Linked DNA regions of Homo sapiens. The protein of the gene in region 1 purifies or fractionates together with the protein of each later gene. This does not show direct contact. Each region holds a gene or a part of one and is shown in the gene's direction. Other genes may lie near its edges. The genes, in order: USP3 and WDTC1.

What was found.
Region 2: the proteins of USP3 (region 1) and WDTC1 purify together in Homo sapiens (affinity purification with mass spectrometry; 2 studies listed by BioGRID and IntAct, with this or other methods). This does not show direct contact.

The regions. Positions count from the first base shown.
Region 1 is NC_000015.10:63,591,347-63,595,200, forward strand, and holds the end of USP3 (ubiquitin carboxyl-terminal hydrolase 3), read left to right. Parts: 3' UTR 1-3,287; downstream 3,288-3,854. UniProt on the Homo sapiens protein: Deubiquitinase that plays a role in several cellular processes including transcriptional regulation, cell cycle progression or innate immunity.
Region 2 is NC_000001.11:27,300,418-27,304,330, forward strand, and holds part of WDTC1 (WD and tetratricopeptide repeats protein 1), read left to right. Parts: intron 1-808; coding exon 809-1,044; intron 1,045-1,521; coding exon of another isoform or gene 1,522-1,808; exon of another isoform or gene 1,809-2,082; intron 2,083-3,203; coding exon 3,204-3,378; intron 3,379-3,913. UniProt on the Homo sapiens protein: May function as a substrate receptor for CUL4-DDB1 E3 ubiquitin-protein ligase complex.

The DNA.
Region 1 (3,854 bases):
AACAAAGGGCATCATTAAGTAGACCAGGTAATTACTGCTTGTCTCTCAAGGCTGCTGTCTTTATCAGCACTAACTAAATAAATTTGTTGGTTCAGTTGTACTTGTCCTGCAAATACAAGAATTACTCTCTTTGTTGGTTTTTTTGGTTTTGGGGCATACTTGTTTGCGGGGAGGTAAGATGGGAGTAAAGACCAAATACATGTAATGTTTAAAAAAAATGCTGTGACTCACTGACATGGTATAGGTGTTACCAGTGAGGTAAAGCCATGGCGTCTGCCTCCTTTTGAATCAGTATCTCATTCCCCCTTAGTTGTACCACTGGAAGTCACGACATGTCCATTATAGACTTACTTACTGCTTGTGTTTGGCATCTGAGTCTGAGGTGTGACCCTCTGGGATTTACTTGGATCATCACCCGCACTTCAGTTTATCACTGGGGGGTGTGCTTCCACAGGAGGAAATTTAGAATCTTCGCTGCTCTGGGTTTTAACACCTCTCTCTGGCCTATCCTGATTGATAGGACAAGTTGAAAATACTGTTGGAGTAAGTAAGTGGAGTTTTCGTTTTGTTTTTTGGGGGTTTTTGGAGACAAGAGTCTCTCTCTGTTGCCCAGGCTGGAGTGCAGTGGCACGATCTCAGCTCATTGCAACCTCGGCCTCCCGAGTAGCAATTCTCCTGCCTCAACCTCCTGAGTAGCTGGGATTACAGGTGCCCACCACTACACCTGGCTAATTTTTTTTTTGTATTTTTAGTAAAGACGGGGGTTTACCATGTTGGCTAGGGTGGTCTCAACCTCCCTCCTGACCTCAGGTGATCCGCCTGCCTCAGCCTCCCAAAGTGCTGAGATTACAGGCGTGAGCCATCACGCCCAGACAGTTTTGTTTTTAAAAAACAGATTTAACTCAAAGATTCAAATTTGGAACCAGAATCCCATTTAAAGAAAGCAGTTGTGGTTTCTACAAGTGTTCTAAGACAGTCCTGTGGTGGTTTTTTTTTTTTCTTTTTTTTGGTTGGGGGCGGTGGGGGTTGGTAGACATAGCCTACCAATTCTCCACAAGGGACAAAATGTATCTTGTGTTAAGCCAACGAGACTTTCTGGCAATTTTTTTTTTTTTTTTTTAATGGAGTCTTACTCTGTCCCTCAGGCTGGAGTGCAGTGTGGCATGATCACAGCTCACTGTAGCCTCAACCTCCCAGGCTCAAGCGATCCTCCCACTTCAGCCTCGAAGTAGCTGGCACCACCACACCCAGCTAATTTTTAATATTTTTACTAGAGATGGGGTTTCACCACGTTGCCCAGGCTGGTCTTGCACTCCTGGGCTCAAGTGATCCACCCACCTTGGCTTCCCAAGGTGCTAGCATTACAGGCATGAGCCACCACGCCCAGCCTGTTCTATTAAAAACATCTTGACCTTTTTTTTTTTTTAAGTTTATGATATAAAAACAGTCTGGTGGCTTTCCCTCAGGTTGGATATCTGAAGTTGTGGGAGCAGATGTAGCTCCATTTCCATTTTAATATTAACTGGATAAATCCCACATCTTCCCAGAACACATCTGCTAAACACTTTAACATGACAAGGAGCAAATTACAATTATGTGTAAACTTATATCATCCAGTACAATGGCCCCTAGCCACATGTGACTGAAATTTAAATTAGAAACTCAGTGCCTTCAGTCACACTAGCCACATTTCAAGTGCTCAGCACCCACATACGGCGTAGGACAATGCTGGTCTAAATTTTCACTCCAAAGAATAAAACTTTGCCATCATGTTTAGGTCTTACAACTTTGAGTCCTAAAAGATAATAGGGAGATGTGTGCTTAAATTAATTTACAATGCTAAATTATATTAGGTTAAACTGTATGAAACCCTGCTATTTGATGAGTTCTGATCTACAAAAATGACAGCTCCACCTGATCTGATGTATCACACATTAACATCACATCTAATTCAACCTGAAATGTGAGTCTCCTTTGATCTTGCAAAGTATCTCCTATGAATCCGGGCTCTTTTGCTTAGAAGGTAGACAGCTGTAACCTCTAACATTGATACTTCGATCTTCAGTCTCTCTGAATGGGCAGCTGTTAAACAGTAAAGGCCTGGGCAGAGTTGATGGTGAAAAAAAGCTGTATTTTTATACCAAATGGAACTTCAGCAACACGTTGGACTACTTTGTCGGGCAGAGTGGTCTTCAGACAGGTGATGCTGTTGGCTTAAGAGATGAACACGTCTTCTCTCTGAATTTGTTTTTATTGGTTGGTTTTACTTGAACAGAAACGTTTGAATGGTGTGAAGATTCTTTAGAAAAGTGATTGGATCCATCTCAATTGTGCACTTGAACAGCAGTGATGTAAATGTGCTTATTTGTGTTTTCATTTTTAACTGTGCAGCCTTACCACACCTATTTTGAAAGCTGATCTTTTGTCCTCTTCAGGGCTTTTCCCTTGTGCCATGTTGTCTCCAGCAATATATGTGGCTTCTGGCTCAGAGCTTCTGCTGAGGCAGGGCCTCGCGCTGAGTCACATGGCTCCTTGGAACAAGAAAACTTTCTCAGAAGTCCCCACACGGGTGGGTGACAGAAACAGTTTGTGGCAACACAAATCTCTCTCCATGGTGGAGAAACCTTTGCTTATCCACTGTATTCTACTCAGTGTATAGTGATGACAGATGTACTAGAATTAAACCAGTCAAGTGTACTGGCCCGGGGTGAGTGTTAAATGTGTATCTCGCCTGTGGAACCTACTCAGCAGCTTGGTTTCTGGGGTTGGGGGCATATTTATTTCTTAAAGCCAAACCTCTCCTTCATTGGTTTAGTGTACATAAGTCTATTTAGATACACTTATCCCACTTTAATCTCCACCAGCCCCTAAACTCTCTCCTGTACCCTCTGTTGCTGAAGTGGCCTCTTCACCTGGGCCCTGGAAAAGCCGATGGAAAAAGTCTGTTCCTGCAGCCAAGGCCTGGGTCCCAGGTGACTAGGAGTAGCCATAGGAAGGTGAGGAAGGAGAAGTGGGCATGTGGTGTCATCTGTAGTCCAAGGTCTCTGCGTCTCGTCAGTGGGTGCAGTGCCTTCCCCCTCAGGTGTGAGCGTGATGGACTCTAGACTGCCTTCCATGAGTGTTGGTCATGCTATGATGTCATCATTTGCCATTAAAACCCAGTTTGTATGATGCCAAGAGGATTAATTGTGCAAGTGACTGATTCATTTAAATTGTAATCACATCCCTTTTCTGCTTCACCAACCTGAACTGTTTTTAAAAATATCATTAAAAGTCTGTTCTCTTTCCTTTTGACTTATTTCTGAACACCTTTTTTCAGTAGAGCCACATAAATGATGATGTACTTACTCAACTCGTGGGCCTCCTCAGTCAACAGGTAGCAAGCTCTTACAGAATCCCCACGATTTGGAGCTGCAGTACCTGGGCCAGGATGAAGTGACCTGTATGGGCAAAGTGATGGCCTGGAGATGAGTGCCTGCAGTCAGGTGCCTGAGGTCCCACTCGGCCTTGCCCAGTGAAATCACCCTCAGTCTCTTGTGACTATTGATCTTATAAAAATGAGGCCCCTTCCCTTCCCCTTTAGAGCTAGACTCTACCCTGAGGCACTAGTTTTGGGGCTCTGAGCAAAGGATACTGGTCATCTTTTAAGGTAAAACAGGCAAATAAGTGCTTTTAAATAAACATCCTGTTTACAGTAAGTTCCTATAGACTACTTCCCTGCCCCCATGCCTCCTGCAGACAGAACCCTGTTTCCACAGTCATCCTTTGCCTGTTCTTGTCAGTCTTCTAAAATTGAAGACACAGGTGCCTGCAGCTCAAATTGTTATGCATCCTTGTTCCGTAGGGCACATTCT
Region 2 (3,913 bases), on another chromosome or scaffold:
GGGGAGTATGCTTCCTATATTCTGGCACAGGGTGGGAAAAGGAGGGGCTTCTCTGACCTCCTTTCACTTCCTCTTTCCCCGCTTCCCCATCAAAAGCACTCCCACTTCCCTTCATCCATGCTTCAGGAGGTTGGAGAAGTGAGTGGGGACGATTTGGAGCTCCTGGTGTGCACAACCCCCCTTACCATCAGCTTCCAGAGAGCTGACTCTGCCAGACTGTCAGGCCCCATCCTCCAGCCCCAGGAGGTAGAGGCCACAGCTGCTGTGGATCAGTCAGCCAGGACAGGGGGGGGTCTGGCTGAGGGCTTGCTGCCTGCTGGTCAGACCCTGCGTCCCCAGCCTGACACTTCTGGCTTCCCCAGACCACAGAACTGTCCTTGAGGGCCCCCTGCCTTGGATGTGGCTTTGAAGGCCAGCCGGGGGTGATTTGAGAAGGTGGATGGGGGAAGAGAGAAGGAGGGCTTGGGGAGCCTGTGGTGGGCAAGATGCCAGGCCTTCTGCTGCAGAGCTGCGGGTGCCTGGGGTGAGCCAGTGTGCAGTTGCACTCTGTGCCCAGCAGAGGGCAGCCTGACACCAGCTTTTGCCACCCTCAAGACCTCAGGGTTTCCTGGCTTGCTCCTTAACCATACTCTGTCTCCTGATGGGGGAGGCCTGGGCTGAGCCAGGATTCTCTTCGTCCTCAAGTCCCCTTGCCATGAGATCTGTCAGTGGTGGGCTGGGGTGGCCACAGGAAGCAGAGGAGACTGAATGGGGACCCCTTGCTTGCCACGTGGCTCCACCTCCAAGCCGCTCTTCCCTGCCTTCCCAGGGATGGTGACCACTATGATGCCCTGAGGGACTGCCTCAAGGCCATCTCCCTAAACCCATGCCACCTGAAGGCACACTTTCGCCTGGCCCGCTGCCTCTTTGAGCTCAAGTATGTGGCTGAAGCCCTGGAGTGCCTGGACGACTTCAAAGGGAAATTTCCGGAGCAGGCCCACAGCAGCGCTTGTGATGCATTGGGCCGCGACATCACAGCTGCCCTCTTCTCTAAAAATGATGGTGGTGAGTGGGCACTGAGGAGGGGGTGCTGTTACTCTTTCTCTTTGAGATGCTGCATGACATTCTGGAGAGGTCATGGTTCTGGGATTGGAGAGGCCTGGGTTCAGATGTTGATTCAGAAACCATGCAACTTTGGGGCAGTTACTTGGTGTCTCTCTCAGAGTGTTTCCTGGTCTGAAAAGGAGGCATGCCAGCACCTCCCACTGAGCGTTTCTATTGAGGATCAGCATGTTTAAATGGCATGTTTAAAGCACCTGGGGGAGTGCCTGGTGCCCAGGATAGGAGGAAGCTGAGCTCAGTCAGGCTCCCGCTAGGCATTCACACCTGCTTAGACAGGGCCCTGGTGGTTCCACTTGGGCATCTGAGAGGCAGAAGCTGGTCATTGTGTTTGTTCCGAGTGTACAAGTGCAGCAGAGACAATAGCGCAGAGCAGTAGAAATGCCTCAGGCTTGGAATGTGGGGCCTCGGTTCCAAATGCAGCTCCACCACCTGACTGTGTGGCCTTGAAGAAAGCACAGCCTCTCTACCTACCTGCACAAAGAGCACGAAGCCCTGCCCAGCTCCCCTCAGTGTGCTGGAGAATGAACTGGGCCATCGGAGTGTGGTCTGTAAACGTGAACGGTGAGCTCATAGGAGGCAGACATGGATCTTCACCTCTCTCCTTTGCAGTTTACCAACCACGTGATAAATTAATTTGTTTAATGAATAGTTATCAGACACCTGCCATGTGCCAGGCACTGTGCTGGGTCCTGGGAATAGAGCTGTGACTAAGTCACGTGGAATTTCTGTGTTTATGGCATTTACAGTCTAGTGAAGGAACCAAGTGATAAAGGAGAAACAAAAAAGTATGACAAGTGCCATGGGGACCTGAATGGTGTGCATGCTGGGAGGGGGTGGGCTTGATGGCATTCTGGGGTTCTTCAGGAAGAAACATTTAAACTAAGATCTAAAGGATCCAAAGGAAGCATTAACTAGATACAAAATATAGCTGTGTGGCCTAGCGCGGTGGCTCACGCTTATAATCCCAGCACTTTGGGAGGCTGATGTGGGAAAATAGCTTGAGCCCAGGAGTTCAATATCAGCTAGGACAACATAGCAAGATCCCATCTCAACAAAAGAAAAATTAAAAAAAATTAGCCAGGGGTGGTGGCACACACCTGTAGTCCCAGCTCCTCGGGCAGCTGAGGCAGGAGGATCACTTGAGCCCAGGAGGTCAAGGCTACAGTGAGCCATGATCACACCACTGCACTCCAGCCTGGGTGACAGAGCAAAATCCTGTCTCAAACAACAACAACAACAAAATGTAGCTGTGGGAGATGCAGAGCTCCTGGCATATGAACCAGCATGCTCCAAGGCCCTGAAGCAGGTATGAGTGAGTCACTTTTAAGGAACTGAGAAAACTTGTGTGACTTTACCTGTCACTTAACTGATCAGTGACTCTCATTTGGGACCCTAATAACTTGTCTTCCAGAGGGTAAGGGCATGGTCCTTACTGCCCTAAGTGCCATGAATCTGTTTATAAAAGTCACCCAGGCTGGGCTCGGTGGCTCATGCCTGTAATCCCAGCACTTTGGGAGGCCAAGGCAGGTGGATCACCTGAGGTCAGGAGTTTGAGACCAGCCTGGCCAATGTGGCGAAACCCCGTCTCTACTAAAAATACAAAAATTAGCTGGGCGTGGTGGCACGTGCCTGGTAGTCCCAGTTACTCAGGAGGCTGAGGCAGGAGAATCGCTTGAACCTTGGAGGTGGAGGTTGCAGTGAGCCGAGATCACGCCACTGCACTCCAGCCTGCGTGACCATCTCAAAAAAAAAAAAAAAAGTCATCCATTCTCTCTTTGCTAGTGCCTCACTCTACCCTCCCCTGCCTCTTACCTCCACAGAAACAGACTTTGAGTCTCTGCATCTTTGGGGCTTTCAGGCCCTCATTTAGGGACCTGAACCAGGGCCCTCCTGGCATCAAAGGTCTCCTCTTGAACATCCTCAGGGGCTAGATCCAAAGATGCATCTTCCTCACAACCTTTCCCCAGTTTTCCAGGATAAGGGTGGAGGCAGGTAGCTCTATGTTGTCAGACTTTGGACTGAAAACAGAGCCATAGGTGGGGGAAAATAGGGAAGGAGAGAAAGGAACAAGGCGCTTACCTTTTCTGGATCTCTGCCCCCAGAGGAGAAGAAGGGACCTGGTGGCGGCGCCCCAGTCCGCCTCCGCAGCACGAGCCGCAAGGACTCCATCTCAGAGGATGAAATGGTGCTGCGGGAGCGAAGCTACGACTATCAGTTCCGCTACTGCGGCCACTGCAACACCACCACGGATATCAAAGAGGCCAATTTCTTTGGCAGGTCCGAGGCCCTGAAGAGGAGGGTGCAGCCCAGTTGGCAGCGGGAGGTTGAGTGGGGAGTGTTGGGGCATAATGGTTTCAGAGAAGAATCTCAAATCCCTGCTCTGCCTCTGTACCCTTGGGCAAATGGCTTCACCTTTGTCAGCCTCTAAAGTTTTTTAATCTATGAAATGACCAACCTGCCATGCCCATTTATGAGGCCATAACAAGGACTAATAAGATAACCCAAGTAGAGCCTCCAGCGCAGTGCCTGAACTACTCCTTCATCCCCCACCTCCTTCTCCCTCTGTCTGCATGTGCCAGAGCTTGGTTTCTTTATCTGCATTCAAGGAACCTCCCTCTGCTTGAGAGTATGAGGCAGCAGCCCTCCAAGGCTGGGAATCTTGGCACATCTGTTTTGTGCTCAAAACTGTGCCCTGTGTACTAAGGGACAAACTCTGTGTTTCAGACACCATCATCCCCACCCCTCATTTGTAGATGTACTTTCTTTGGGTAGGTGAGACACATGAACATGAATCAAGAATCTCTCCATAGGC